Linked DNA regions of Homo sapiens: regions 1 and 3 are each linked to region 2. Evidence: fine-mapped expression QTL. A gene starts in region 2. Each other region holds a variant in brackets. All regions are shown on one strand. Distances are from middle to middle.

Region 1 (8,000 bases), 65 kb before region 2:
CCTATTCCTATCACATTGCTTGGTGATTTAGGATGTGTCCTCTAGAGCCAGACTTCCTGGGTTCAAATCCCAGCTCTGACTCTTATCAGCTTTGTCACCCTGACCAAATTACTTACCCTCTCTGTGCTTTAGTTCCTCATCTGTAACATGGAAATAATGACAGTACCTGCCTCCTTATGTTGTAATGTGTCTACAGTGCTTAGAACAAAGTGTGGTACATAGAAGGTGCTCAATAAATATATGTTGAATTGAACTTTACCCTCCAATAATTCTGTAAGAGAAGTATTATTACCTCTATTTCCTAGAGGAGAAAACTGAAGCTCAGAGAAGTTAAATGACTTGCACAAAGTGGCACAACAGTAAAGAACACATCTGGAATTCATCCTCAACTGTCCTGATTTGAAATCCCTTCCTTGTCCAATAATACTTACCTTGATGAACTGTTGAAAGATCAAATCAAACAAGCTAATGAATGAGAACAAACTAATGAATGTGTCAGTGCTCTGTGCATTATAATTTATTCATGTGGTAATGACTACGATCATCAGATGAAGGGATTGAGCTATATTTATCCTGAAGAGAAAAAACCCTCAAGGACAAGTCAGTTCTGTGATCCAAAAGTACAGAAGGGGCAGGGTGCGGTGGCTCATGCCTATAATCCTAGCACTTTGGGAGGCCGAGGTGGGCATATCACCGGAGGTCAGGAGTTCGAGACCAGCCTGGTCAACACCCCGTCTCTACTAAAAATACAAAAATTAGCCAGGCATGGTGGCAGATGCCTGTAATCCCAGCTACTCGGGAGGCTAAGGCAGGAGAATCACTGGAACCTGAGAGGGTGAGGCTGCAAGTGAGCTGAGATTGTGCCACTGCACTTGTCTCTCGTCTTGTTTTCCCTAGAGATCCCAGGATCGCTCTGGAGATTCCCCTTCCAGTTGTGGGGCCCCTGCCTTGCAGACGGAGCTGGTTCCTTCCCAGCTGATCCCTCAGCCATCATGCAATAGTGCCAGCTATGGAGGCTATGGTGGGCAATCTTCAATGCGGCCTGAACTCCAGGCCAGAGACCAGGCCGAGGTTTGGAAAATGCTGCCCAATCTTTGCAAGCTGAGTTTTGGAGACTGGCTTGCCACAAATGTATCATTTGTCAGTACAATGTAGCAAGAGGACACACCCTGGGAGGGGAGGAGGGCTTGGCCTCCTCCATGAGCCCCTCCCTGTCCCCTGCCAGCATCCCCTCTCCAGTGGCGCAGCATCCCCACCGCCCCCCAGTGTCCTCTCTCCTCTGGCCCACTCTGGCAGCAGCCCGAGGACCAGCACTTCTGGCCTTTCCTTCTTTCTCTCTTGTGGAACACCCATGGCTAATAGCAGTAGGAAAGTGGGTTCCCTCCCTGACTCTTCCTGGCTGTGTGGCCCTCTGTGTGTAACAATCTCTCTGTGCCTCAGTTTCCTCACTTATGAAATGGGGATAATAACTGTGCCTCATAATCAGAGATGCAATGCACAGGGGCTAGTCCATGGCCAACTACTAGTAGATCATATCAAAATGGCTCGTGGTCATTGAGATTTGTGATTCCATGTGTCTCATCTGAGCTACTGGATGGCAACATTCTCGGTACTGGGCTTCATGCTCACTTCCTCCCTCTGTCCCCACAGCGCTTGATGAAGGTATCTCCCAATCACATCAGGGCTGAGAGCAGAGGCAAGCTAAGGCAATGGACTGGCTGGGAGGAAAAGAGCTCCCTGCCCTCCTGGAAGCTCGGGTGTGGCTGGGAAGGACGGGGCAGTGACCTCCTTGCAAGACTCACCAGGACACTGGGTAGCTTCTTTCGGCGCCGCACATACAGCTGGAGGGCCAGGCAGTAGGCGAGGGCTCCGGAGAGCAGCAGGACAAAGGCAAAGAAGATGATGACGTTGGTCACGGTGAAATCTGCAGGCCCAGAGAGATGTGTTTGTGGCCTGTCACCATGGGGCACGGTGATTCTGGACATAGGACTCTGGTCCCATGAAATCCATTGCCCACTGTCAGGAACCATTCAGTGAGTGGCCCAAGGCAAACTACAGGCCACAACTCTAGATGTGTCTAGGTTTCTGCGAATCCCTACCTGGCCTTCCAAACCATGCCCTGAAGGATTCCCTCAGGAGATGCGCTAACTGCTTCCAGCTCTCTGCACATGACTCCCATCACAGCAAACAGAACAGTGAGGCAGGATGGTACAGCAGGTAAGAATCGAGGCTCCGGGGGCTGCTAGATCTGGGTTCAAGTCCCAGCTTCACCACTTACTAGCTGTGCAATTGTGGACAAATTAATTACTCTGTCAGAGCCACTGACCTCATAAGGTAGTTGTGAAGTACACAGCACTGACCATGTACCAATACCATCAGATTCTTTTAACTTTTATACTTATAGGAGGTAAATACTATCATCAGCCCCATTTTTACATATTAGGATCCTGAAGCACATAGAAGTTAAGTAATTTGCCCAAAGTCATATACCTCAAAAGTTGTAAAGCTGAGATTTGGAACTATTTCATGTATCAGTGAATGAATGTATGAAAAACTCTTAAGACTGCCTGATACCCACTTAGTGCCTTCCTCTGCATTGAGACTTAAATGACACTGAGCTGTTGAGTGTCCTTCACAAACTGAAATTTGTTGCAGATCTAGCAGGAGTCACTTTCACCTTTGCCAGACTCTGCCCACACTGGACTGGGCCCTCCCAGAGCACTTACTGTTGGCATGTTTCATTGGGCACTGGACATCTCATCTGCTGTCCAATAAGAGTTGCTTGTTACAGTCTCCTCTGTGCACACTCTATCTCCCCAGCCAGGATGCAAGATCCTCCTAGGCAAGACCGTGGCCTCCATGTCCTCTATTATCTCCCTCCCCCTACAGCCCCGGCACCTGACTGACAGCCTGGAGCAGTATTTGCTGACTTTAGCAGCTCTGGCGAGGAGCAGAGCAGAGTAGGGGAAGTAAGGAGAAGCCCTTTGTATCCCTGGCTCTGAGGAAGAACAGCAGAAGACTGTAACAACAGGAACTAGCACAGCTCACTGAAGATGGCCCCGGGGGAGGGGGATGTTGTTGGGAAACACCGCTGTGCTCCAGTGGGAGGACCCTAGATCCAAGAGACCTGGTTCTGCCACCAAGTCCTAGCTGTGCAACCCTAGGAAGTTGCTAATACTGAGCCTCAGTTCCCTCATCTCTAAAATGAGGACAGTAGGACCTCTCTCCTATTAAGGATGCAGAGCTATGTGAAGCAGCACCTAACACAGTGGCTGGCACCAGCATCCCAGGTGCACGCGTTTTGGATTGCACCAGGCCCTCCCAGTCTCCCTCCCCATGCTGAGAGCAGCCCAGCTGACTCACACTGCCTGGTGAGGGAGATGCACTCCTCTTTAGACCACATCCCCTTGTTACTTCGGGAAGCGACAGATGGTTTCACCTGGACACAGAACTCTCCCACTTCTCCAGAGGTTAGGAGGCTGAAGTTTTCATGTTTTACTTTCTTGTGTGTGAACTGAAACAAAAATGATAGCAATTAACAAAATCCTTTTATTTCATGGCACACGGACACTGAGAGCTGGTGGGCCTTTAGAGGTGATTTCAGCCAACCCCCTTCAGTATCCTTTGTCTAAGATGACAAACCCCACAATTACCAATGCAGCACATGATCTCTGTAATGACCACAATTTTATTTTGTATTTTAAAAGAAAAAGCGGTGTTTTATAGATGCTGAAGATCTTCCCAGAAGGGGCTGGAATCAACAGTGGTGGAGAGGAGAGAGGGTGGATTTTGCAGATGCCAGCTCTCCCATAACAGGGGCGCCCTCTGGTAGGTTACACAGCCTCTCAGAGCCTTATTGCTTCATCTACAAGGGCTCTGGGGTGCCCAATTGCCCTAGTAGGCAATTCCTTTGAGGAGCATCTCACAAGAGCATAGCTCTGAGGGCTGAGGTGGTTTCTACTCCCTCCTCTGCCCACCCACCATCCCAGACCCTCCCTTTAGTCCATAAGCAAAGTTCCCAATGGCACACAAGGGTGCTTCCAGCCCAGGGGACAGGGAAGCCAAGGGAGTTCTGGCCCTGGGGCCTTGGGGAACCCCATACCGTGAAGTTTCCCGGCACCTTGCGAATGGCAATCTCATACTCTCGGAAGTGACTGAAGATGCTTTCATATGTGTCATT[T/C]GCGGGGGCCATCTTGGGCCTGGGTAGCTGAATCTTCCCGAGGATGAAGCCATTGTGGATCTCTAGGTTCACACTGCCAACTGTCAGAGTCACTAAATGGAGTTGGGGTGGGGGGGAATACCATGAGACTTGAGGGCTGAGGAGGGCCTGGGTGTCCCCGCCGAGACTTTGCCTCCAGAATTAAGCTTAATTAGAACCTAGGCCTAAAACTTGGCCACAGGTTTGTCAATGCAGCAGAATGTAAGGACTTCTTGGGGAGCACATTAAAAATACATATACCCTAAAATCAGATGCATCAACCAATGGAATATGATGGACAGCCCAGAAATAAACCCACAATTGATTTTCAACAAAGGGGCCAAGAACACACAATGGGAAAAGAACAGTCTCTTCAACAAATGGTGTTGGGAAAACTGGATATTCACAAACAGAACAATGAAAATAGATCTTTGTCTCACCTCTTACGCAACAATCAACACAAAATGGATTAAAGACAAATGTAACACCTGAAACTATAAAAACCACCAGAAGAAAACCTGGGGCAAAGTTCTAAGACTTTGGTCTGGGCAAAGATTTCTTGGATACGATCCCTAAAGCACAGGCAACAAAAGCAAAAATAGACAAATGGGATTGCATCACACTAAAGAGCTTCTGCACAGCAAAAGAAACAACCACTAGAGTGAAGACACAATCTATGAATGGGTGGAAAATATTTACAAATGTTCATTGAATAAGGGGTTCATATCCAAAATATACAAGGAACTCATACTACTTAATAACAAGAAAACAAATAAACCTGTTTTTAAAATGGGTAAAGGACTTGAATAGACAGTTAAAAGAAGACATACAAATGACCAACAGATACATGAAAAAATGGTCAACATCTCTAATCATCAGAGAAATGCAAATTAAAACCACAATGAGATACCACTCCACACCTGTTAGATTGGCTATTATCCAAAAGATGGAAGTAACAAGCATTGGCAAGGATGTGGTGAAAAGGGAAACCCTTGCATGTCGCTGGTGGTGAATTTCTCAGCCATTATGGAAAACAGTATGGATGTTCCTCGAAAATCTAAAAATAGAGCTACCATGTGATCCAGCAATTCCCACTACTGGGTATATATCGAAAGATATTGAAATTAGTGTATTGAAGAGATACCTGTATCCCCCGTTCATTGCAGTATTATTCATAACAGCCAAGATATGGAAATGCCCACCAATGGATGAATGGGTTTTTTAAATGTGGTATGTATATACAACAGAATCCTATTCAGCCTTGAAAAATAGGAAACTGAGGCCCGGCCCAGTGGCTCACGCCTGTAATCCTAGCACTTTGGGAGGCTTAGGCGGGTGGATCATTTGAGGTCAGGAGTCCGAGACCAGCCTGGCCAACATGGTGAAACCCCATCTCTATTAAAAATACAAAAATTAGCCGGGCATGGTGGCACGTGCCTGTAATCCCAGCTACTAAGGAGGCTGAAGCAAGAGAATCTCTTGAACTCGGGAGGCGGAGGTTGAAGTGAGATGAGATCAAGACATTGCACTGCAGCCTGGGTGACAGAGCAAGACTTTGTCTCAAATTGAAAAAAAAGGAAACTCTCATTTGGGACAACACAGATGGACCTAGAGGACATCATGAGCGAAATAAGCCAGGTGCAAAGAGATAAATGCCATAAGATCTCACTTATGTATAGAATCTAAGTAGAATTCTTTTAGAATTCAATTCATAGAAGTAGAGAGTAGAAGTGGTTACCAGAAGCTGGAAGGAGGCAGGTGGGAGAAGTGGATAGGGAACAAGGAGAGGGGTACCAAGTTACAGTGAGACAGGAGGAATAAGTTCTGGTGCCTATTGCACGGCAAGGTGACTGTAGTAATAATAATGGACTGTATATTTCAAAATAGCTGAAAGATAATATTTTAAATGTTTTTGGCACAAAGAAATGCTAAATATTTGAGGTGATAGATATTCTAATTACCTTGATTTGATCATTCCACAAGGTATACATGTATTATGTATACATAACACTGTACCTCATAAACATGTAGAATTATTACTTGTCAATTAAAAGAAAAACTTTTTTATAAAACGTTTTCAACACTTTACTGTTTTTTGTTTATTTGTTTGTTTTTTTGAGACAGAGTCTCGCTCTGTCACCCAGACTGGAGTGCAATGGCTTGATCTTGGCTCACTGCAACCTCTGCCTCCTGAGTTCAAGTGATTCTCCTGCCTCAGCCTCCCTGAGTAGCTGAGACTACAGGTGCACGCCACCACGCCCGGCTAATTTTTGTATTTTTAGAAGAGATGGGGTTTCACCTTGTCAGCCAGGCTGGTCTCAAACTCCTGACCTCAGGTGATCCACCCACCTTGGCCTCCCAAAGTGCTGGGATTACAGCCGTGAGCCACCGAGCCCAGCCCAACACTTTACTGTTAAGCATAATATTTATGGTAGATATGTGTAGATAGATACCTTTCTACAGGTTAGGACATTTTCTTTCTACTTTAACTTTGCTTAGTTTCTTTTTAAATGTTGTTTTCTTTTTTAAATGGTTAATGTGATAAATTGCATTGATTATATTTTTATGTAGAAATTTCCAATAGACAGAAAAGTAGAAGAGAATATAATGATTTCCAAAGTCCCAGCTTTAGTAATTGCAAACACTAGGCCAATTTTGAAGTAATTGGTGGCAGGGGAGGGTCATCAATATCCCCCCATGAAATTTACTTTAGCATTTTAAAGAAAAATCCCAAGCACTGTATTACTTAATTCCTAATTACGTAAGTATGTATCTCTCACATATCACACCTTTGTAAATATAACTACCATGCTGTTATCACATGTAACAAACAAATACCTAGTAATATGCCCTAAAAACCATTTCATATACAAATATGGTGATTTCCTCAAAAATGTCTTTTTATAATTGCCTTGCTCAAATCAAAATACAAAGAAGAACAAAATGTTAAAAAAAAAAAAAATACAGATGCCCTGGGCCCATTCAAGACACAGTTGGTCTGAATTTCTGAGGCTGGGCCCTGGAAATAGATATTTTAAACACACTTGCTGGGAAACGTTTCTGCACCAGCTGAGCAGTGGCCTGTGGGCAGGCATTTGGAAGCCAATGACCTCCTAGACCATCGGCTCTAACTCTGAATCCTACAGAGCGAGGTCTCCATGCACACAAAACTTTCTCAATCCCAACTGGTGGGATGAAAAATCCCACTGAGTTGGGGGCTTATCCTTTCCTCTTACCTCTCCAGAGAGGGATCCATAACTTCTCTTTAGTAGCACTTCCCATTTCAAAGGGATGACCCCTGGGTGTTCACCCCTAAAGAAGCGGGGCGTTCACCCAAATTCTGCCTACTGCTTGCTGCCCTATGCTGAGTGTTCATGGATTCGCTTCCTCTCCCTGAACCCTCCCTGAAAAAACAAGTTCACAGGCCTGGACCTGGTGACTCAGCTGTCCCAACCCACCCCAAGACCTCTCTTCTGTAGGATAAACAACTCCAGTTCCCTTTTAAATCTCAAACAACTTGGGCTATTTTTATCTAACATTCTCCAAAGTCCTGCCCTGTTTGGGCAACTAGTTCTCCGGCCAGGGAGGCTGGCAGACATGGTGAGCTATGGTAATAGACAGAAAAGCTCTAGACTAGAGTTCCTGGCTGGAAGGGACTTCAGAGCCATGTTCTAAGTCAAGGGAGGAAAAGCACCTTCATCCACAGAGAAGCGGGTGTTGGTGACGGTCCAGTTGGAGTGCCGGCTGCCGTCCACAGCCCGCACTCTGGCCCGGTAGCCATTGCTGTGGTACAGGTCCAAGG
Region 2 (11,301 bases):
ACCCAGCCTTTAATCATGGGGTGTGGATCATGCAATGACAGGAATGCCGATTATCAGAAGAAGAGCAGGGATTTGTCCCACTCTGCCCCCTGTTGCCCTGAACAAGACACAAAGGGGCAGTAAACTCCATGACTAAGAGAAACCCTGGGGCCCCTGCGTTTAAGATCCTAGACTGTCTGAACCACAGGCCTACTGGGGAGTCATCAGGTGGTCTTTTGGTTTCCTGCCCACACTTATCTTCTGGCCTCCCCTTCGGGTGTCCCAGTCCTTTCTCCCTCCTCTTTCCTCTTTATCCAGGGGAGAAGCCCAGTATCTGCTGGAAATAGGGAACCTTAGAGTTGCCCCACCAGCAGAGTCCCCTGAGAGCCTCCCTTAGAGCTGCTGAGAGGCTAGCTGGGGACCAGGGACTCGGTATGGACTCATGGGCTGTTTTCTCTTGGCTTGAAAAAAAAATCTCTCCACATGATCTGGCCTCCTCTTATCATATCTGGATGACCTAGCACCTGATGTGAGTCCTGAGGCAGTGGCGCGGCTGGGCTGCGCTCAGGGTTCAGCATTAAATCTTAGGGGAGATTTAGATGAGATTCCAGAAAAGGGAAAATTAACCTCTAGTGACAGGAAGCAGATCAGTGATTGTCTGGGGCTGGGATGGGGTGGAGAATTGACTGCAAGAGGTGGGAGGAAACTTTTTGGGGTGATGGGGATGTTCTAGATTTTGATTGTCATAATGGTTACACAGGTGTGCACATTTGTCAGCCTTCATTTAATTGTTAACTTATTATTGATGCATTGTTAATTTAAAAAAACAAATCTTAGAACAGATTGGTAGCAAGTGCCATGTTCAACAAATGGTCAGGCAGGCACCAGTTTGCTTAATTCTGAGGACTCCTGTTCAGCCACAACAAAGAACATGTAAGCCATGCAGATTCATGGAAGACCAAAAATGAAGTAATACGGCACAAAAAAGAAGGAACTCAGGGTGGAAATTCACAGTGAAGACAACAGCTCTCTAGGGCTCAGGTCTGCTCTGTGCAGAGAGGGAGCTCACCCCCTGGGAAGAGGCCTTCCTTGCTCTTGGTTGGCCTGGATGTTTTGAGCAGCTGGGACAATATCCTGCAGAAAGTAGAAGGAATAATCACGAGGGGAAATGGGGCCCTGCTAACATGTGAGTAATAAAAGGGGGAGACAAAATCCAGATGGAAAGCTGATCCTGTCTTTACTTAAAATTCTGATATTTTATTCACCTTGGACTTTTCCCGTTAATGCAGATTTTAAAAATATTTCATTAAAACATGATTTATCTTGATTATTTGGGCACGCTCTTAAATTGTGCAGCCTGGGCAAGTGCCTCACTTGATCACTGATGTCCAGCCCCAAGGGAAAAGCAGGAAGAGAGAACCAGCCTCTAGTCCACAGAACTCAATGGCGATCAACCTCTGCAGGCCTGGAGTGGGGAGAGGCACGGCTAGGACCACAGCCTGGAGGGACCCAGGACGGCCCTGGAAGGCTAAGTGGGGGCGGAAGAGACCTGCCTGGGGCTGCAGCTGGGAAGACTGCTGGGCTTGGGGGGTGGGGCAGTACAGACCATAGGAGCGTTAGGTGTGCTGGGCCCAGGGGTGGCTCCTGGTGACTCACCCCCTTGAGGGTGGACCCAGTGTCTCCCCTCTGCCACACTGAGTCTTTAAGTATGTAGTTGGTTTCCTGGCTGCCCTCAGGCCTGGAGGGAAACCCACCTATTGTGCCAAGAGTGGTGGAGAAGCTCAGAAGCGGGGTGCAAAGTGGGGAAGGGTAGGCAAGGGCTCCAAGCAGGGAGTTGGGAGGTGATTCAGGGGTGAAGCTGCTGATAGGCTCAGGAGGGAGGAACATGGGCCCGAGGTGGGAACTCCAAGGAAGATAACAAGGCTGGGAATAGAAGGCCCAGAGCTCTGTTTCCCAGGCTGGAGCCTCAGGAAGGAGTTCCCAAGGCACTGGGGTAGTGGTAGCTAGAACAGCCATGGAAGCAGAGAGCTAGGAGTTTAGTCTCAAAACAGTAGTGAGATTTTCTCACACCTCACTCTCCTGGACAGCTGCCAGGAGATGTGTGCTTGTTTGCATGGCTGACATTTTTCTGTAAAACTCCCTTCACTCCACATGGAAATGACCCAGGTAGGAAATGACCAGGGTACAAATGGGCCTGATGGCTGGCCTACACTCTCCCTGGGGCGTTGAGGGAGCAGAAGGTGGGTCCCAGGTGCTGCCAATAGCCTCTGGGTGTGGAGTAGCCAGAGGTGGGCAGGTGTCTTTCCAGAAGGCAACCAGGGAGCTGAAGGGAGAAAGCCAGGGACCAAGGCCAGAGAGAAGGAGGCAAAGGAAAGGGTGGGAGTCAGAGAGAGCCTGGGATTGTACAGTCAGGAGGACAGCAAAGGAGGCCGGGAGGAGGGGGAAGGAAAGGGCCAGGCCAGGGTCAGTGGGGAAGTCAAAAGCGGTGCAGGCCTCTAAGTCCAGCTCTGTGGGGGAAGCATCCAGGTCTTGTGCTGCCGCAGCGCCTTCACTCTGAAAATAGGAAAACCACCAGCTAGGAATTTCATTCCTCAGTGTCCCCCCGCCACCCGCCCCAACACATCAACTGTGTGTTCTCCCAGGGCAGGGCCCCTGCCTTTCTGTTCTTTGCCCACCACTCTCACTCCCCAGCAGCCACCGTGGGCCTGGTGCTGAGCAGTCAATCCTTGCTGAACTGAACTGCCCTTGGTGGGGATGTCACACGGGTCAGACTGCTTTGTCAGCGAGGACTCTGGGACAGGCCAACTTGTGTCTCTGATGCAAACCAAGGAAAAGAGCAAGAGGTGAAACTGATGTTCCTTCCCAGCCTTCCCAGTGCCCTGTGCCCCGTGCCAGGCACTTCCTCTGGTTCTATGTGTTCTCATTTTCCCGATGGTGAACCTGTCAGGCCTTGCGAGTTCCCCTCAGAGTTAGGGTTCTCATTCCCCCGAACTCGCCCAGACCCCCAAGCCTGAGCTCTTTCCCTAGGTTGGTGGGACCTTCAGGGAAGGAGGCTGAGGGTGCCCTTCGGAGACCAGTGGCCTGCCTGGGGGATGAAGTGGAGGCCCTCGGATCTGGCCTGGGCGTGCCAGGGCTCAGTGGCAGCCAGAGAGGGGCTGGGCTCCTCCCTGGGAGAGAGGGAAGAGGAGCAGCTGAGGACAGGAGGTGGGTATCTTCTCAGGAGGATGGATGGGAGGGGCCCCTTTGTCATGGTGGGCTGGTGGATGGGGCAGGAAGGGGATGTGGCCTGTGGCTGAATTCTGCTCTCTTTGAAAGCCAGGGAAGTGGCTCCCACAATAAGCCAAGATGAGAGAACTCTAGGGTCCCTGCCTGGGCCCTCCAGAGTTCTCTCCTCCAGCCTCTTGCCTCTGGGTTAGATTTCCCTCAAGACACCCTAAGCTGGGGCACAGTTTCCACTGTGAGCTAGAAGTTTCCGTTTTCTTGAATGTAAATGGGGGGCGATAGTAGTCACTTCCTTTCAGTTTTTGCTCAAATATGTCACCACAGAGAGCCCTCTCTGACCATCCTGTTCCCAACTGCCAGGACTCTGCCTCCCCTACCTTCTGGATCCTTTCGCTGCTTTGTTTTTGTGAACGGCACTTTTCACTTTCTAGGAGGCTGTGTAACTGATTTATTGATTTTTGTCTGCTTTTTCCCCCCAACCCGCAAATACTAGAGCCACAGGGCAGGAGGCTTTGCCTATTTTGTTCCTGTGTCCCCAGCACCTAAAGCAATGCCAGGCACTCAATACATATTTGTTGAATGAACACGTGAAGGATGCGTGTGAAGTGTTTCGCAGGATTCTTGGCATCTTAAGATTATTGCTGCTGCTGTTGTTTGCTGTGTGACTTGAGCACATTCCTTAGCCTCTCTGGCCCTCTGTCTCGCAGTCTGTAAAATGAAAAGAGTGAACCACTAAAGATCCATGAGCTTCTTTCAAACTCTAAAAATCTTGGTGCCTCTGAATGCTCAAGAAAGTTCTTCCCAAACCTCAACAGGAACTCCTTTTTCTTTTTTTTTTTTTTGCAGTTCTCAGCAGCAGCTCAGCTGGAACTTAGCCGGAGGTGCTAAGGACTCCTTTTGCAATAGCCCTTCCTTTACTTCTTTTGACTCTGAGGATCAGAATAGGGTATAGGTTTGGGATCACGAGTCAGCCCAATGTTTCTTGGAACAGTTTCCATTCAGATAGTTATGTTTTATTTCATTGACTTTGATGTGTTGCTTCTGGCACTTTATTGTTTTCAATAGAGGGCAATTCATGATGTGCATAATTAAAGGTCATTTGATTTTCATTTCTTTGTTAAGAGTTTCATAAAAACAAACAGAGTTCAGGAGAAAGCAATTGCCAGACCATGCGCCCAGAGACCATGTGCCCTGATTTGGGATTTGGACACCTGGTCCTTGGAGATGAAGGTTCCCACTGTCCTGCCATAGGTGGGGCTCTGCCCCTGGCCTGGAACGTCCCCTGTGGGGATAGGGTCATCCCTCAGAAGGCTCTGGAGCATCTGTTTCAGGGGCTCAGGTCAACAGGACCAAGACCATCCTCTCAAGGCTCTGCCCTTTCTCTCAGGGCCCCTCTGAAGAAGTAGCTCAGAACACTCCTCTGCTTCTGTGGGGGCAGTTTCATGAGTAAAGGCAGCTTCAGGTTCCCGGTATTTGGAATTTGGTATTCGCTGAGTAACTGGGATGGCCTCGATGAGGGGCAGAGGAACAGGTCTGGCTAGTTCTGTGTTGTTTATACTGGGGATTACTTCACACGTCCCAACCGGCTTCCCCGCCCCATTTGGTGGGGGCTGGCCCTTGGCCCTCCAACTCCTTTACCCTACATGCCTGAGAAGCCAGGGACCAAGATGGATCTTCTCCTCGACATCAGCTAAGCCTGGAGGACTCTTCCCCTCAGAGACCATGGAGAGGGACAGCCACGGGGTGAGTGTGACCTCAGGCCTCGGGCCAGATTCTCCCAGCGCTGAGGAAGCAGGGCTGAGGCTGGGAGACAGGTGGGACAGCTACCTCTGTGTTTCAGGTTTGGGGGAAACTGGCTGTGCCTCTTCTAGTTTGAAGCTACTTACGATCAAGATCTCTTGGTCTCCTTTTAACGTGGTTCTAGAAAAAGCCCCTGGGAGGAGAAGCTGCTGGGATTTGGGGTCTGGCTGGTGAGCACCCCAGGGCTATGTGGCTGAGTCGTGGGTTTCCTGCTCTGTGGTCTGTGAGCACTCCTGCCGGGCATCCATAGTGTTACAGCACCAACTTTGCCGATTGGGAATCCAGGCTAATCTACTTTAATCTCATTTTTGCTGGTTGGAAAATCAAAAGCATTCTAACTGCAATTCAGGGGCATCTTGTCTAAACCCCTCACTACACTCCTAAACCTTCCCAGAAAACTGTGACTTTCTGGGTGCATTCAAGATTTTCAAGGGGATGTTTCAACCTCCGTTGGTCACTTCTTTTTGGACTTAATAACTTTCATGCTTGGGAAGTGCTTCTTGATGTTTAACCACAAGTCCTGCTACCACTCAACTTCCTTTCTTCTGCTGCTCTTGGGGTAGGAGAAAGCAGCTGGCCTGTCCTCTGTGGGAAAGCCAGTCATACACACATGAAGGCTTCCAAAGATCTTGTTCTGCTGTGCCTCCACTTTCTTTTCCTCCAGGAAATCCCTTTTGTGCTCTCATTTCTCCTTTAGGTCTTGTTTTCTGCCCCCTCCAAATTCTCTGTACCTTACCGACATGGTAGAGCCTGGGACTCTGGGAAGAATGGGCTAGCACTGGGTTTGGGAAAGATCAGCTCATCCTATGTTTTGGCTTATAGTTGGCTTGTGGTCCATTCTGCACCCCCAATGTGTTTCTGCAAACTTTACCATCATTTTTTTCCCACCATTCTTCCAGCCCCCTCTTGACTTTTCTTTCCCAGGCTGCCTCCCTTGCCCTCTGCTCTGGGCTCCTTCGTTCATGTCTCTACCTCACCAAAGTCACTTGGCCCTAGGCCTTGGGGGGTTATCAGAGCCTCTTACTGTTGAGCAGTAAGGGGGGTACACAAGGGCATGCAGAAGGTGAACCCTTAGTCACAGCCATGGGGCATCCTCCTTGGCAATATGCTGGGAGCCTAAACTAGATGGTCCCTAAACCCAAGAGTGAGAAGGGCTGAGCTATCCGGAGGGTGGCCATGCTCCCACTGGAGATGGATAGTCCATCCCTGAGACAGGGTGATGGGGCGATATCTTCCCAGGAAGCTCATCTCTTCAGAGTCAGGGATCAACATGAAGGCTGCTGGAGGGATACAGGACAGAGAACAGACTTCTTTGAGGAACTCCCAATTAATCTATGAATTAAGTGTCAAATATTATGATAGGTGCCATATTCATTCTGAAAAAAAGATTGTCCAAACTTACCTTGGAATGGAAGAATGGAATCATTACATTCTTATTTAAGGTTCTTAACTTCACTCCCCTATTTAAGATGGAACTCTGAGAGAGTGAGCCTATAGTTGGGGCTCGTATTCCCATCTGCAGCAGGTTTCTTAACCTTGATTAAATAGGAGTGGTCTGGGAGAAGCTGGTCACCTGAGCTTGTGCCTTCTCCTTGAGGGCTTTATTGCAGAGAGATGCATTGTGATTTCTGTCCCTCAACTCCAAAATGTCGTGAGGAAGATGGTGGCCAGTGGGCTTGAGCCTGATGGCACTCCTCTGTCAGCTGCTGGATCTTCAGAGGGATCTTGGAAAAGAGGTGGAGAAGGGTCTCAGTTTCTCATATTCAAAAGAAAGTTGCATGTCGTGGTGGACAGAGAACTGACCATGTTCCCCGTCAGCTTTGGGCAAGCCACTTCACCTTTCTGTACCTTAGTTTCTTCATCTGTAAAATGGAATAATAATACTACTCTCAAAAGAAGAATGTTGGACAAACTAAATTTAACAGAGTTTAATTGAGCAAAGAACAATTCTCAAATGGAGCAGTCCCCCGAAGGAGAATAGATTCAGAGAGATTCCCACACAGCTGCGTGGTCGGAGAGGATTTATGGACAGAAAAAGGCAAGCAGTGTATGGAAAAAGGAAGTGAGGTACAGAAATAGCCTTATTTGAACACTGTTTGAACAGTTGGCTGCCTTTGATTGTGCAAAATTGGTGATTGTTAACAAGAGTAGTTTACAGTCTGTTTACACGTCCAGTTGAGTTATAGTTCATTATGTACAGAGAAACCTTTTGATCCGAACTTAAAATATGTAAGGAGGCAGCTTTAGGCTAAGCTTAATTTAATAATACCTACCTCAAGGAGTCTCAAAATAGTGTCCTTCCCATAGTAAGGCTCATTTAGAATAGCATCTGGCATAGAGAGATAGAGATAGATAGATAGAGATGGAGTCAGAGAATGTTGAAATTTATCATCACTGCCTAGAATTTGGGGTGGGCTCCTATAAATTTGGACAAACATCTTCTTCTACCTGTGCCTCAGCTTCCCCACCAAAGAAGAGGGTTGGACACATTCCCCCCTGAGGCTCCTTTCTGGCTCCCTGACAGTCTGGAATTACATAGAACGGGGATGACAGGTGCGCCACACCAGATTTGTTCTTGACAATGCGTATTTTGTGCTTTTTCAATTCTCATTTTTAATTCTCAGAGCAGTGCAATGCTTATTAAAGAAAGACTGAATTAGACCCATTGATGAAGCAACATTCCTTTGTGGAGTGGATTTTCTTATACTGGGCCTTCTTCAAGTGGAACAGGTTCCAAATTAGCCCAAGGCCACAGGTGCTAGGGATTGGTGAGAACCGTCTGGGGGCCCACCGCTGGTCCAGGATAAGGCACCCTTTCCAGAGGAGCTGGGCAGTTCCTGAGATGGCTCACCCGCGGGTCAAGTCACTCTGCCATGCCGTGTCCCAGCCCCATCCCAGCCCCAGGCACCCCAAGGACCCTGGCACCTGCCCTATGCCCCTGCAGGTGTGTAGCCCTCACCTCGTCCTCCAAGGACCCTGGCACCTGCCCTATGCCTCTGCAGGTGTGCATCCCTCACCTCGTCCTCCAAGGACCCTGGCACCTGCCCTATGCCCCTGCAGGTGTGTAGCCCTCACCTCGTCCTCCAAGGACCCTGGCACCTGCCCTATGCCTCTGCAGGTGTGCATCCCTCACCTCGTCCTCCAAGGACCCTGGCACCTGCCCTATGCCCCTGCAGGTGTGCAGCCTTCACCTCGTCCTCCAAGGACCCTGGTACCTGCCCTGTGCCCCTGCAGGTGTGCAGCCCTCACCTTGTCCTCTGTTTCATGTTGTCATTGGTGAGGAGCAGACTTCCTTTGGCACAGCCACCTCGATTTCCCCTGCATTGTCCCCTGAGACTTGGCAGATGTGAGCGTAAGCGTGCGGGAGTGTGTGTATTGGGCCCTGGGCTGGGGAGCTGGGTGGGAAGGACAACTGATGTAACAATGGCCACTTAGCTTAAGTGTCTTGTTTTGGCAGAACAGATTCCTCTTGGTATAGCAACAACAAGGGTGGATGTGCCTGGCCAAGTGGGCAGGGCACTGGTGGTGCAGGCATGAGGGAAGCCACCACAGGGAACCCTGGCTTTAGCCGTCAAGTGGAGGCCTTGACAGCACCAGATGGGGGTTGGTTTCCCTAGGAGGGAAGCAATACCCAAAACTTTAGAGGGGCCCCCATTATGTACCAGCCCTGAGTGTGTCACTACCCTAGGACTGGCAGCAAGAGAAGGCACAGACACAGGGAAACATTGAGGCAGCAAGTTCCTGGGCAATCAAACATTATTTGCTGGGCAATAGTGGGCACTCCATGTTCTTTACAGCATTTGATAAATGAATGAATGAATGAGTGAATGAACGAATGAATGAACAAGGAGGCGTCTTGATTCTGGTCTAACAGGGATTCCTTGAGCTTTTTCATGTGCACAGGAGGCATCGGAAACTAGAAGGGACTTCAGCACTTACTCTGGCCAGTCCCTTTCAAGTTCGTTGTAGCAGCTGCCTCTTTTGTTCAAATGAATGTTATGTTGACTCCGCTGTATGAAACTGAAAGGTCGGTCTTCTCTGTTGAGGTGGGGTAAGGGCTCAGAGCCCACCACAGTCCCCACCAGCTGGTCTGCAAGGCACCTCCACGGAAACTGAAATGCTCTGTGGAACCCTGTTTGAAAACTGCTGATTGTCCAACACCCTTAATTTATTGAAGAGGGAGCTGAGGCCCAGAGAAGGATGTGACTGTCCCCAAGGTCACACGGCGGCCTAGGAGCAGAAGCGAGGCTCCCCGTGCCCCCCACCCCCAGGGCGAGGCAGACCCTGCAGCTCTGGCCCCTTCCAGAGTTCAGTCTGCCTCAAGGGCTGACCCAAGTCCCTGAGCTGTATACTGCGTGTGTGCTGGAGATGCTGGTGCTGGGTGAGGAGGTGGTGGGGAAGATGCCTGTGTGCTGAGGAGAGCCTGTATTTGTGGGGTTTCTCTGGGTTCGGGGAGGGGGAGAGTAGGAAAGGGCCTTGGGAACCTGGAGGTACAGTGAAGCCTGGGTCTAGCCGTGAGAAAGGGAAAAAAGTCACCCAGTCCAGCCGGGCCCTCGCTGGGAAGGGTTCAGGCCTCCCCTGCCACAACCCCAGGGCTCCCCAGGTTCCCAACAGGCAAGGAGGGTTTTTAGGCTCTGTCAAAGGGAGATCCTGATCTTTCTCAGTGCCGCCAGTGCTTCCAGAAGGGTTTAGTGAGGGGTTTTTCTTCCTGCCTAGCCCAGAGTGCTGGGTTGTTGGCCCATGGTCTGCCCGTGCCCACCCTATGGGCGCCCTTGATGCCCAGGGTCACTGGAAAAGGGACGCTGCCACGGGGGCCTCTGTCTGGGAAGGGTCCTTTCTCATGGAGGCTGGTAAGGGACAGAGAGGGGAAGAGCAGAGTGTTGTGTAACAGCCCAAGGATGGGGGCCAGAAGATCATGGTTCTAGAATTGGCACCGTCCCCACCTGGCTGTGTGTCCGTGAGCAAGTCACACAGCCTTTCTGGGCCTTCATCGCCTCAACAATAGTATAAAGGGCTTGGGTAGGTTTTCTTTTCTTTTCTTTTCTTTTCTTTGAGATGGGGTCTTGCTATGTTGCCTAGGTTGGTCTTCAGCTTCTGGCCTCAAGCCATTTTCCCACCTCAGCCTCCCAAGTAGCTGGGACTACAGGCCGGCGCCACCACGCCCAGCTTAGAGGGTTTTCAGAATCTTTGCAACTCTGACAGCCTGTGATATGCCCAACCCTGGGTGGTAGCTTTACGAAGGGATGGCCCAGGGCTGAGGAGGGAGGCCCAATTGGCTTAAACTGGACTGAAACGGGCCCTGATGCACCCGCCCTCAGGCCATGAAGCAGCTACTGCTCCCTGCTGGACATTCTTCAGGACTAGAAGGAGAGCTTTTTTTTTTTTTTTTTTAATTATTATACTTTAAGTTCTAGGGTACATGTGCACAACGTGCAGGTTTGTTACATATGTATACATGTGCCGTGTTGGTGTGCTGCACCCATTAACTCGTCCTTTACATTAGGTATTTCTCCTAATGCTATCCCTCCCCCGTCTCCCCACTCCCCGACAGGCCCTGGTGTGTGATGTTCCCCATCCTGTGTCCAAGTGTTCTCATTGTTCAATTGCGGGAGAGCTTTTTATAGGGTGGTTCACACTGCAAGCCCAGGCTCTGGGGGACCTGAAGTGCATATTTCCCAAGTTCAGGCTGCTGCTTATGGCTGAAGAACTCTCATTATGCAGAGCCTGGGGCTCGATCCACAGCAGCAGCTCCATAACCACTGAGATGAAGCAACCATGAGCCCACATCACTCAGGCCCCCTCTCTCACTGGCTGGGCCCCCAGAAGGTCCAGGAGAGGACAAGAGCTGGACATACTCAGGGGCTGGCTAACTTACTACCATCCCCACCAGGTAACGGCCCAAGGGGCAGAGTCTGCAACTGGAAACCAGAAAAACATCCCATTCGCCTCAGGGGGGATCTAACCCTGGGAGCTGTGGTGTCGAGACCCCTGGGCTGGAAGTGGGGGGCCTTGGGTTTAGTCCCTCCTCTGCTGTGAGATGGGCCTGAACAACTTTGGGCAAAGCACACAAATGTTTTGGGCCTCTACCTCTCAGTCTGTAAAGTGGGAGTAAAAATGCTTATAGACTTCTGTCCAGGGACAGGCTTTGGAAAGACTCCCAGAGCCAGGGGCTGCTCCTTTTAGCCCTCCCTGGCTTGTCCCTTACCGCTTTCCTGCGGACCCCTGCCCTGCCTTCCTGCCCCAACACGTCTGGAGGGCCCTGAACAAGCCTTGGGTGAGGACCCTTGGGAGCTGCAGAGG
Region 3 (11,064 bases), 120 kb after region 2:
GGTGGCCTGGACTTCCCCATCAGAGGAAGAAGAGCCTCAGACAGGCCGATCGCTAGCTCCTACAGGCTGATCTCCTGTCCAGGGTGAGGGTGCCCCTGGCATGGGCCTCCAGTTTTTCTAAATGCTTTGGGGCATCAGGAGAAATCTCCACCCCACCCCCCCAGCAATTCCGAACTCTCTCTCTTGTACAGGGAGCAAGGAAGGGGTGCCCCCAAAGAACTGAGCGTCTCCACTGGCGCTGCGTCTAGTGAAGGAAGTGGGCTCCCTGGACAGACGGGTGGGAGTGGAGGGCGTGAGGGGTGTTGTGCTGAAGAAAGGCCCAGGGCAGGGGGTGGTGTAGCGTCTCCTCCCAGACTCTCCAGGCTTCCACCCTCCCTCCGCTCTGCTCGGCAGGGCTGCTGTGGGGGAGATTAGTCGCCTCCCTGTTGATCCATGGCCCCAGGCAGCTGAGCTCTGAACTGCAATTCATCAGGGGCCTCTGGGGCGGGTAATCTGTGCCTCACCAAGCGCCCATTCTTCATTCCTAGCAGGCTGCCTGACAAATGCCTGGCCAGCGGAGATCAGAGGCAAATGCCACGGCAGCTCGGCCCTGTTGTCAGAGCGAGTCACTGGCTGGGAAGATGGATTGGGCCTGGGCCTCGGAGCCAGGGCCACAGCGGCCTCCTTCCGGGACATTGGGAGGGCAGTGCTGAGCCCAGGGCTGCACTGGGAGAGCCACGGAAGGGCCCGAGTGTCCTAGCCTTGGAAGAAAGCCTGGGCCCAGACTCAGTGCCCCCTCCCAGTTTTGGCTGCAGGAGGAGCCTCACAGGCTGGGGACACTTCATAGTTTGCCGTTGAGTGACTGAGGACTTGGGAAGAAATCCTGTTTAGAACTTCAAACGTTCATTCCCAGAGCTTCAACCTGACACTGGAGGGGCAAAGAAGGTGGCATTGGGAGATTGGGGGAGGGTCTCCCCCAGGTGTGGAGGGACCTCATGCCTAGAAGGGACTGGGACGAGCTATGTTCAGGAGTGGCAGCTCCCCAACCCGTTTTGGCAGATTTCATTTTCAGTTTGTAGGCAGTGGGGCCTCAGATGTGAAGGCAAGCTCAGAATTTAGGGAGACTTAGGGTCCCCTGGCAGGGCGGGAGACCAGGGCAGAGCACCTGCCAGGGGACCCTGAGTCTCCCTGAATTCTGAGCTTCCCTTCACAGGGTGCAGGTGACACCAGGTCAGGAACAGTCCTGGAACAGTGGAGGCCCAGCCTGGCCTGTCCTGCTCCTATGGGCTTGCTGGGCTACCTGCTGTCACCCTGAGTGACACCCCGAAGTTCCTCAGCCCCAGGAGGCCGCCAGTCACCGCGGCTGCTACTGTCTCTAGATGTCTAAACTTGGTTCCCTTTTCAAGAAATGCTCACTGTCACTTCCCCAAAGGGCTTCTTTGGTGTCACTGAGAGGAATTCCCCCTGGTGAGCAGGGCAGCAGGGAGGGGAGAAGAGGGCAATGTTCTGAGCTGGGGAAGCAATTTGTGGCCCCGGAAGCCCTGCCTGCAGCTCAGTGCAGACCACACCGTGGAAGGTGGAAAATTGGTTTCACTGCCAGCTCTGCCCTTGGCTTGCTGTGTGACCTTGGGAAGGCCCTGGTCTGTCTCTGGACTTGGCTTTGGAAAAAACAGACACAAGACAAAAGTCCCAAGCTTCAGCTCACACGTCAAGGAGCTGTGACTTTTCAGGGGAAGGGGTAAGGGGAGAGCTGTGGCTGACCCCCTTGTTCCCTCCCGCCCCTTGGATAGCTGTTCTTAGAGAAAAGCTGGATACACCCCCACAGCCCCTGCAAATACACACTTGGCTTCCTCCCGGCAGTGAACACAGAGGCGCCCAGCAAGTGATGAAGGCAGACAAAAAGACACACTTGACAAAGCAAAGGAGATGAGGCTGGCTTGGCCCCGAGCCAGGAGCATGCTGAATTCTCTTGTGGTCTTTGTTTCCTGAATGGCCTATCAATCAGTAACCGAGTGCGTGCCAAACCCAGCCCACACGGGAACCCGGTGTCCTCGGCTCTCCAGTAAATACTACTTCAGGTCTCATGTCCGAGGACCATATGCTCCCAACACAGCTAATAAAATCATCCAGGAGTAGCCTGGAGGCCGCAGACACCCGCCCCAGGGGGCAGGAGGGGGACGAGCCAGGCTGGGCCTCCGCTGTTCAAGAGTGTTCCTGACCTGCTCTCTCTAGCACCCTGGGCACCTGCCAGGGGACCCTGAATCCCCTGAATTCTGAGCTTTGCCTTCACATCTGAGGCCCCACTGCTTATAAGCTACATGAGGGAGGGATTGCATCTGAAAGTTCACCCACCGATCCCAGTGCCTCACCCCCCTTTGGGCACTTAGTGCACCCTCCATACATGTTTACTGAGTGCACACGTGACTGGTTGAGTAGAGGAATGAATGAGTGATTGATTACCAACCAGGTGGACCACCCCTGTCCCTGCTCCATGCCTCCAGGAGCAAGGAAGTTGTGGGGTCAGGGTAGGCAGCTGGGGTGGTCAGAGGTGTGCGTGATCCCTTCTTCCTTGGCCTCACAGCTAAGGTCACAGGCTTTGGAATCAGCAGACCTGGATTTGAGCCCTGGCTTAGCCAATTATGAACTAAGTTTCATGCGCATCCGTGTGAAGAGAACCACCAAACAGGCTTTGTGTGAGCAACATGGCTGTTTATTTCACCTGGGTGCAGGCGGGCTGAGTCCAAAAAGAGAGTCAGCGAAGGGAGATAGGGGTGGGGCCGTTTTATAGGATTTGGGAAGATAATGGAAAATTACAGTCAAAGGGGGTTGTTCTCTGGTGGGCAGGGAAGGGGGGTCACAAGGTGCTCAGTGGGGGAGCTTCTGAGCCAGGAGAAGGAAATTCACAGGGTTAATCACTCAGTTAAGGTGGGGCAGAAACAAATCACAATGGTGGAATGTCATCAGTTAAGGCGGGGCAGGGCCTTTTCACTTCTTTTGTGATTCTTCAGTTACTTCAAGCCATCTGGGCGTATAGGTGCAAGTCACAGGGGATGCGATGGCTTGGCTTGGGCTCAGAGGCCTGACATTCCTGCCTTCATATATTAATAAGAAAAATAAAACAAAATAGTGTTGAAGTGTTGGGGCGGTGAAAATTTTGGGGGAGTGGTATGGAGACAGAATGGACGATGTTTCTCCGGGCTGCTTCAAGCGGGATTAGGGGTGGCGTGGGAACCTAGAGTGGGAGAGATTAAGCTGAAGGGAGGTCTTGTGGTAAGGGGTGATATTGTGGGGTTGTTAGAAGAAACATTTGTCATGTAGAATGATTGGTGATGGCCTGGATACGGTTTTGTATGAATTGAAAAACTAAATGGAATAAGAGAAGGAGAAAAACAGGTATAAAAGGTCTAAGAATTGGGAGGACCTAGGACATTTAATTAGAGAGTGCCTATGGAGATTCAGCATAGTCCTGCCAGCAAAGATTATTTATTTACTTCAAGAGTTAAGAGTGGCAATTTGGAGATAGCACGAGGAGATATCAGCTGTGATGGCTTGGAGAAACAGTATAAACCGGCAGTGTAAACAAGAGCAGGGCATGTATGAGTAGTTGAGAACGGTGAATAGGAGTATGACTAGACAGAAGATAGTAGGGATGACAAGTTTTTTGGGGCACAGTCGAAGTTGGTCTGGTGTCTGGAATGAGACTGGGGCCTAATAAAAAGGAGCATCTATACAGGAGGTTAAATGGGCTGTACCTTGTAGCATTCTGAGGACATGTCTGACTTCTGAGAAGGGAAAGTGGTAAAAGTATTGTCCAGTCCTTTTTAAGTTGGTGGCTGAGCTTGGTGAGGTGTGTTTTTAATAGACCATTAGTCTGTCACTGAATACTAAGAGCCTGAAAAAATGCTTGGCTGATTTGACTAATAAAGGCTGGTCTGTTATCAGACTGTATAGAGGTGGGAAGGCTAAACTGAGGAATTATGTCTGACAGAAGGGAAGAAATGACTGTGGTGGCCTTCTCAGACCTTGTAGGAAAGGCCTCTAAAAGTATTAAAGCAGTGGCAGCCGCTGCACGCAGACATGAGGGCTAGGCTAAAACAGTAAGGTCAAGTTGTTTGCACAGAAAGGCTACAG[T/G]GTGCGGTCCTGGCTCTTGTGTAAGAATTTTGACTGCACTAACCATGCCTAGGAAGGAAAGGAGTTGTTGTTTTGTAAAGGATTGAGGTTTGGGAGATTAGTCGGACACGATCAGCAGGAAGAGCACGTGTGTTTTTACGAGAATTATGCCGAGATAGGTAACAGATGAGGATGAAATTTGGGCTTGACTGAAGTAATGGGGGCTGTCTGTGAAGCCTTGTGGCAGTACAGCCCAGGTAATTTGCTGAGCCTGATGGGTGTCAGGGTCAGTCCAAGTGAAGCGAAGAGAGGCTGGGATGACGGGTGCAAAGGAATAGTAAAGAAAGCACGTTTGAGATCCAGAACAGAATAATGGATTGTGGAGGGAGGTATTGCGGATAGGAGAGTATATGGGTTTGGCACCATGGGGTGGATAGGCAAAACAATTTGGTTGATAAGGCATAGATCCTGAACTAACTTGTAAGGCTTGTCTGGTTTTAGGACAGGTAAAATGGGGGAATTGTAAGGAGAGTTTATAGGCTTTAAAAGGCCATGCTGTAGCAGGCGAGTGATAACAGGCATTAATCCTTTCAAAGCTTGCTGTGGGATGGGATATTGGCATTGAGTGGGGTAAGGGTGATTAGGTTTTAATGAGATGGTAAGGGGTGCATGATTGGTCGCCAAGGAGGGAGTAGAGGTCTCTTGTGGGTTAAGGTGGGGGAATACAAGAGGAGGACGCAAAGGAGGCTTTGGATTGGGAAGAAGGGCAGCAATGAGATGCAGCTGTAATCCAGGAATAGTCAGGGAAGCAGATAATTTGGTTAAAATATCTCGGCCTAATAAGGGAACTGGGCAGGTGGAGATAACTAAAAAAGAGTGCATAAAAGAGTGTTGTCTAAGTTGGCACCAGAGTTGGGGAGTTTTAAGAGGTTTAGAAGTCTGGCTGTCAATACGCACAGCAGTTATGGAGGCAAGGGAAACAGGCCTTTGAAAAGAAGGTAATGTGGAGTGGGTAGCCTCCGTATTGATTAAGAAGGGGATGGACTTACACTCCACTGTGAGAGTTACTTAAAGCTCGGCATCCGCGATGGTCTACGGGGCTTCCAAGGCAATCAGGCAGCCTCAGTCTTCAGCTGCTAAGCCGAGAAGGAGTCAGTCAGGGAGCCTTGGGCCAGAGTTCCAGGGGCTCTGGGAGTGGCTGCCAGGTGAGTTGAACAGTCCGATTTCCAGTGGGGTCCCGCGCAGATGGGACACGGCTTAGGAGGAATCCTGGGCTGCAGGCATTCCTTGGCCTGGTGTCCAGATTTCTAGCACTTGTAGTAAGCTCCTGGGGGAGGAGGTTCTGGAGGAACGCCTGGCCGCTGCAGTTCAGGCGTTTGGAAGTTCTTGTGTGCTGGAGATGTAGCTGGGGTTTGTCTCACAGTGGAGGTAAGGAATTGCAACTTTTTTTATTATTGTACACCTTGAAGGTGAGGTTAATTAAGTCCTGTTGTGGGGTTTGAGGGCCAGATTCTAATTTTTGGAGTTTTATTTAATGTCGGGAGCAGATTGGGTAATAAAATGTATATTGAGAATAAGATGGCCTTTTGACCTTTTAGGGTCTAGGGCTGTAAAGCTTCTCAGGGTTGCTGCCGAACGAGCCATGAACTCGGCTGGGGTTTTATATTTGATGAAAAAGAGCCTAAACGCTATCTGATTTGGGATAAAGAAAAAGGAGCATTAACCTTGACTATGCCTTTAGCTCCAGCCACCTTTTTAAGAGTAAATTGCTGGGCAGGTGGGGGAGGGCTAGTCACAGAACGAAACTGTAAGTCAGACCGGGTGTGAGGAGGAGAGGCGATAAAAAGATTACAGGGTGGAGGAGCGGAGGCTGAGGAAGAAATGGGACCTAGCTTGGTCTGGCGAGGAGGGGAGAGGTCAGATGGGTCTGTAGAAAAGGAAGATTAGAAAGACTCAGCGACGCTTGGGGTTGGGACTGAGGGGACAGGCGGGAGGGAAAGAAGGAAGATTTGGGACGAGTTGCACTGGGCACAGAGACTAGGAAGGGACTGATGTGTAAAAGAATGCGTGGACGTCAGGCACCTCAGATCATTTGCCCATTTTACGACAAGAATTATTTAGCTCTTGTAGGATGGAAAAATTGAAAGAGCTGTTTTCCGGCTATTTGGAACTACTGTCGAGTTTGTATTGGGGTCAAGCGGCATTGCAGAAGAAAATAAGACACTTTGATTTTAGGTCAGGTGAGAGTTGAAGAGGTTTTAAGTTCTTAAGGATACAGGCTAAGGGAGAAGAAGGAGGAATGGAAGGTGGAAGCTTGCCCATAGTGAAGGAGGCAAGCCTAGAGAAAAGAGTAGAGATACGGAGAAGGGGGTGGGGGTTTCTTGCCCTCCAGAAAAGCAGAGAAAGGGTTGGGGCACGGAAATAAGGGATTGGGGCACAGAGATAAGAGGTCGGGGTGCGGAAATAAGGGATTGGGACACAGAGATAAGAGGTCGGGGTGCGGAAATAAGGGATTGGGGGTTCTTGCCCCCTAGAAAAGCGGGACTTGCCACTAAGGGTGAAGGAGAAGGGGTTGAGGGGTACTTGCCCCTCCCCCAGAGGGCGCTGGAGTTTTGAGTCCACGGAGTTTTGGGTCCACGGAGTTTGGGTCCACGGAGTTTTGGGTCCACGTGTCTCCTTTGTCTCTATCAGAAAATGAAAGGAATTGAAATTAAGAGAAGGGAGAGATTGAAGTGTGGCGCCAAGATTGAAATGTGAATATGTATGTATGTGAATGTGTGTATGTGTGTGCGAATGTGTAAGTGAGTGTGTGAATGTGTGTGAGTGTGAATGTGTGTGAAAATATTTGAATATGTGTGAGTGTGGGAATGTGTGTATGTGAATGTGTGTATGAGTGTGTGTGAATGTGTGAGTGTGTGAATGTGTGTATGTGAATATGCGTGTGTGTGAATGTGTGAATGTGTGTGTGAGTGTGTGGGTGTGTGTGTGTAAGAGTATGTGAATGTGTAAGTGAGTGTGAGTGTGTATGTGACTGTGTGAGTTTGTGTGTGTTGTGCGTTGCTAGTTGAGCTGGAACTGGGGAGGAGCAGAGCAACCCAGGAGGGTTGCGTGGGTGGACCTAGCATCTGGAGCGCTGCGCGGCGATTCAGCCTCCTCAGCTGAGAATCAGAGGTCTGTTTTGGAGGACACCATTGGTCCCCTCCAGTAGTTCTTAGAGGCTGGCAAGGACACAGGCTGGGGCAGGGAGTGAGCCCAGCCTCCGGCTTCACTGCGAGACATGACTGGGGTGAAGGGCAGGACCTGTGTAGTGGAGAATTTGAGTGGCCGCCGTCTATGTTGTACTGCACAGCAGCCTGCGGCGCCACCATCCTGTCCTGTGGCACTAGGGGGAGGCAGACACCAGGTTCCCAGTGCGGAGGCCTGGAGCTTCCTTCCGCGGAGGACCGCAGAGACACATCCAGTAGTGGGCCAGGGAGGCGGGTTGTCCTCTCCAGCCATCAGAGCCACGCCCAAGGAGTCAGGCACAGCGGGGAGGAGGGCTCCCCTCCCTTCCCACAGCTCCCACCCTTCCCACACTGCACTTTCCAGGAGTGCAGACGCGGCAGCTGGCCTCCCAGGACCTGCCCCACCCTGGAGGTCTGCACTGAGCCCCTTCGCCAAATGAGGCAAGACTTCTCCTGAGCCTGGGGTCTCAGGGCAAACTCCTGAGGTCGCCTCTCCTAAATCTGAGGCATTCCCAACGGATCTGGAAGATTCATTCTCTCTGGATGGATTTTTCCTCCTCTCAAGCTTCGCAGTGGAAATGATATGAAGCAGGGGCGGGGCAGTGACGGAGCTGCTAGAGCAGGGTAGACAGGCGTGGGCGTGAGCTTGGCTCGGTCACTGACCACCTGGGCAGCCCTGGGGAAGTCCTTTAGTGTCTCGGAGCCTCAGTTTTCTCATCTGTGAGATGGGGTTTGTGATATCCAACTCATTAAAGAGATTGAACGAGATCATGTGTGTAAATGAGATATGTACGCCACAAAGTGCTGCGAACATGTAAAGTGGGTGAGGGATGAAGCAGTGTTCACCAAGGCTTCTGCTGGGCTGGGTGATTGCGTGTTTTTCAGCCATTTATTATTCAGCAAATTTTTGTTGACTATCAAGTATGTGCCAGACACTGTATTAGTGTTTTTGACAAGCTTAAGTGGATAGTGTTTATGAAACTACAGAACATAAACCTTCTAGTTTATCTTCTAGTTCAGGATTTCCCAAATGCCAGCCCCAAGACCTATGCTAAGCTTCTTACATCCAAATACTGGGAAACAGAAAATACAGATCCCGGATTCTGTAGTCTGGGATCTCTCTCTCCTTCACCTCACCTGTGCCTGTGTGCATGTGTAGTTGTGTGGTTTCGGAGCCACTGAGACCCAGAGATGGCAAATGCTCTCAGGGGATAGCATGTCGCATGCCAGGGGCTTCGGGCATGCGCCTATTATCTTTTCCAGAGGGGCAGGGACAGCCCAGCCATGGTCTCAGGACTCCTCCTAAAGGTTTGACCCATAGGAATGTGTCGGCAGATTGCCCAGAATATAGAGTCCGAAGGCCTTCTAATTCTATATTTTGTCACTTAATGGCTCTGTCATTTAGTGCCTGCATAATTTTTAGCAAGTCACTCTCTTTCTGAAGCCTCAATTTCCTCATCTGTAACATGCGGATATTGATGTCTGTCTTGCTGTGGTATCTTCATGTGAGCATACTTTGAAAACTGCAGGCCGGGCGCGGTAGCTCACGCCTGTAATCGCACCACTTTGGGAAGCCTAGGCGGGCGGATCACGAGGTCAGGAGTTCAGGACCAGCCTGGCCTACAAAGTGAAACCCCATCTCTACTAAAAATGCAAAAATTAGCTGGGTGTGGTGGCATGCACCTGTAGTCCCAGCTACTCGGGAGGCTGAGGTGGGAGAATCATTTGAACCCAGGAGGTGGAGGTTGCAGTGAGCCGAGACCACGCCTTTGCACTCTAGCCTGGGTGAAAACTGCAAAGCTCCAATTTTTAACTCCGACGAAAGCCAGAACCAGACTGAGTTTTCAAAGGAGAAACCCTTCAGGCTGAATTTTCTTCCACTTCTTCCAAGTCCAGCTGTATCTAATATTGAAAGATAATCTCCATGGAGGAGCCCCCATCCCGCCCAAAGGTTTCTCATACTCAGTCTTTGGGCGACACCTGCTGGCCATGGCAGGTACTGTGACCTTCTCTAGCTAAACAACTCTGCGGAGAAAACTTGCCCATCTCCTTAGACATTCACAGCCACGCTGCAGGGTCGGTGTTCTGTTCCCACTTCCACAGACCAAAAAGGTGAGACTTGGTCCTCCCAGCTCATGAGAAGTGCGGTGAATCTCTGACTCCAGGTTCTTGGCTCCATCTCATCCCTTCTTGCTCTTAGGCTGGGCGGAGTGGGGAGTCATTTCCTCCCAGGCAGAGGAGATCTCCCACCCCCCAAATCATTCTGAAGTAGGTACTGGGATTTGGGGCAAGGCCAGGGTTGGAGCCTAGGACAGGCCTGGTCAAGAAAGACTCATCCTTGTGTCAACAACCCCACCAGGCAGACCACCACATCCAGTTCCCCATCTGCAGAGCAACTAGACTGATGGCAGGGGCTTCAGCGATAAAAATTCACTCTGAGGAGGCAGAGAGATGCCATTTGGTCAGGCTGTGTGGTGAGGAGCTGGGGACAGGCTACCCGCTGAGCCTGTTGCCTCTGTGCCCACTGTGTGGGGAAGTGGCTAGCCTGAAATCTGGCGTGTGGCTTGGGGGAAGCGGGTGCCCCGGCCAAGGAACTTCTCAGTCAGGAGGCAAAAAGTATTGTGATTGAGAAAGAGGATTTGGCCTCATCCTTGAGAGATGCACACAAAATGATCAATGGATGAAATTATGTAACACAAGAAATTTGCTTCAGAAAAATTCATGGTGATGGGAGGGGAGCATAGATGAAACAAAAAACTGGCCATGAGTCAACTCTTGTAGCATCTGGGAAATGAGTGCATAATAATTCGTTATACTGTTCTCCCCACTTTTGTATATTCTTGAAATTTTCCATGTTCAAACTTTAAAAAATGTAACAGCAGTAACACTACCACCACCACCAAAGTCAATACATAGAATGATGAGTTTGAAATTAGACTGCCTTGAGCATCTGACGCTGCGTGAATTGGACAACTTAGTTAATTTCTCTATGTCTCAGTTTCACTGTCTGTAAAATGGGGATGATAATAATCATACCAGTCTTATAGGGTTGTTTGGAGATTATGCATCTGGAGTAATTAGCATAGTGCTGGGCCCACAGCAAGTGCTCAATTATAATCATTGTTATTAGTAGGAGTCCAGGACTCTGATTATGATTTGCCAAAAGAAGAAGCTACTTTGGCTGATGCAGACAAACAATTAGCCCGCCAGTTCAGCTCAGAGTTTGGACCGATGAGTCTTTGAGGACACAGCTCTGAACTGCCATGTGCCAGATGTGTGGGTGTCTCAGATGGGTAGACACACCATAGAGTCAGGCTTTCCTGAGCCCCTGCAGGGAGGCCTTTTCCCTGCCTCTCTGCATATCCTTCCCATTGCTCAAGCCCAACTCACATCCTACCTTGGTTTTTACTGACCACTCCTTTCTCTGAGCTTAAGCAGCTCTCTTCACAGACTTATCGAACCCCTTGCCCTAGGTGAGACTGTAAAGATCATCCAACCCAGCCACATCATCATAGCTTCATTCGACAAACAGTCATCAAAGACCTGCCTTGGGTACTGAGGATGGAGTGGTGAACAAGGTGGGCAAGAGTCTGAAGGCAACAGGGCCTAGGAGGGAGGTAAACACCACTTAGCTGAGCGCAGGCCAGGCGGTCAGGAGCCCTGGACCTAAGCCCTGACTCTGCCATGTGACCTGGGACGCCCTTCACCTGCCAGCCACTGTTTCCTAGGCACTTGCAGGAGATGCTCCCCA

Direction of the effects. Alleles are on the strand shown, and positions count from the first base shown. SD is a standard deviation of normalised expression in the study named. Not every link is listed here.
With allele T in place of G in region 3, the expression in lung of the gene that starts at base 4,829 in region 2 is lower (small effect, 0.20 SD a copy in GTEx).

Evidence for each region.
Region 1: its variant is fine-mapped to the expression of TMPRSS13 in whole blood (TOPMed, PIP above 0.99). The same link has a PIP of 0.9 or more in blood mononuclear cells.
Region 3: its variant is fine-mapped to the expression of TMPRSS13 in lung (TOPMed, PIP above 0.99).

Annotation. Positions count from the first base shown.
Region 1 is chr11:117,989,513-117,997,512 of GRCh38, reverse strand. It overlaps IL10RA (interleukin 10 receptor subunit alpha), which reads right to left. Exons shown (of 7, transcript NM_001558.4): 3 at 7,893-8,000; 4 at 4,103-4,272; 5 at 3,364-3,514; 6 at 1,803-1,924. Among named protein-coding and RNA genes, the nearest start is that of IL10RA, 7.1 kb to the right of the region's middle. RefSeq lists an enhancer at 2,763-2,932. The variant T/C (reference allele first, on the strand shown) is at 4,181.
Region 2 is chr11:117,922,930-117,934,230 of GRCh38, reverse strand. It overlaps TMPRSS13 (transmembrane serine protease 13), which reads left to right and starts at 4,829. Exons shown (of 13, transcript NM_001077263.3): 1 at 4,829-4,944. The coding sequence starts at 4,924. RefSeq lists enhancers at 1,068-1,606, 1,839-1,968, 1,607-2,146.
Region 3 is chr11:117,805,897-117,816,960 of GRCh38, reverse strand. It overlaps a transcript of DSCAML1 not described here. Among named protein-coding and RNA genes, the nearest start is that of FXYD2, 13 kb to the left of the region's middle. RefSeq lists enhancers at 1,705-1,784, 2,574-3,151, 7,386-7,435, 7,486-7,555. The variant T/G (reference allele first, on the strand shown) is at 4,111.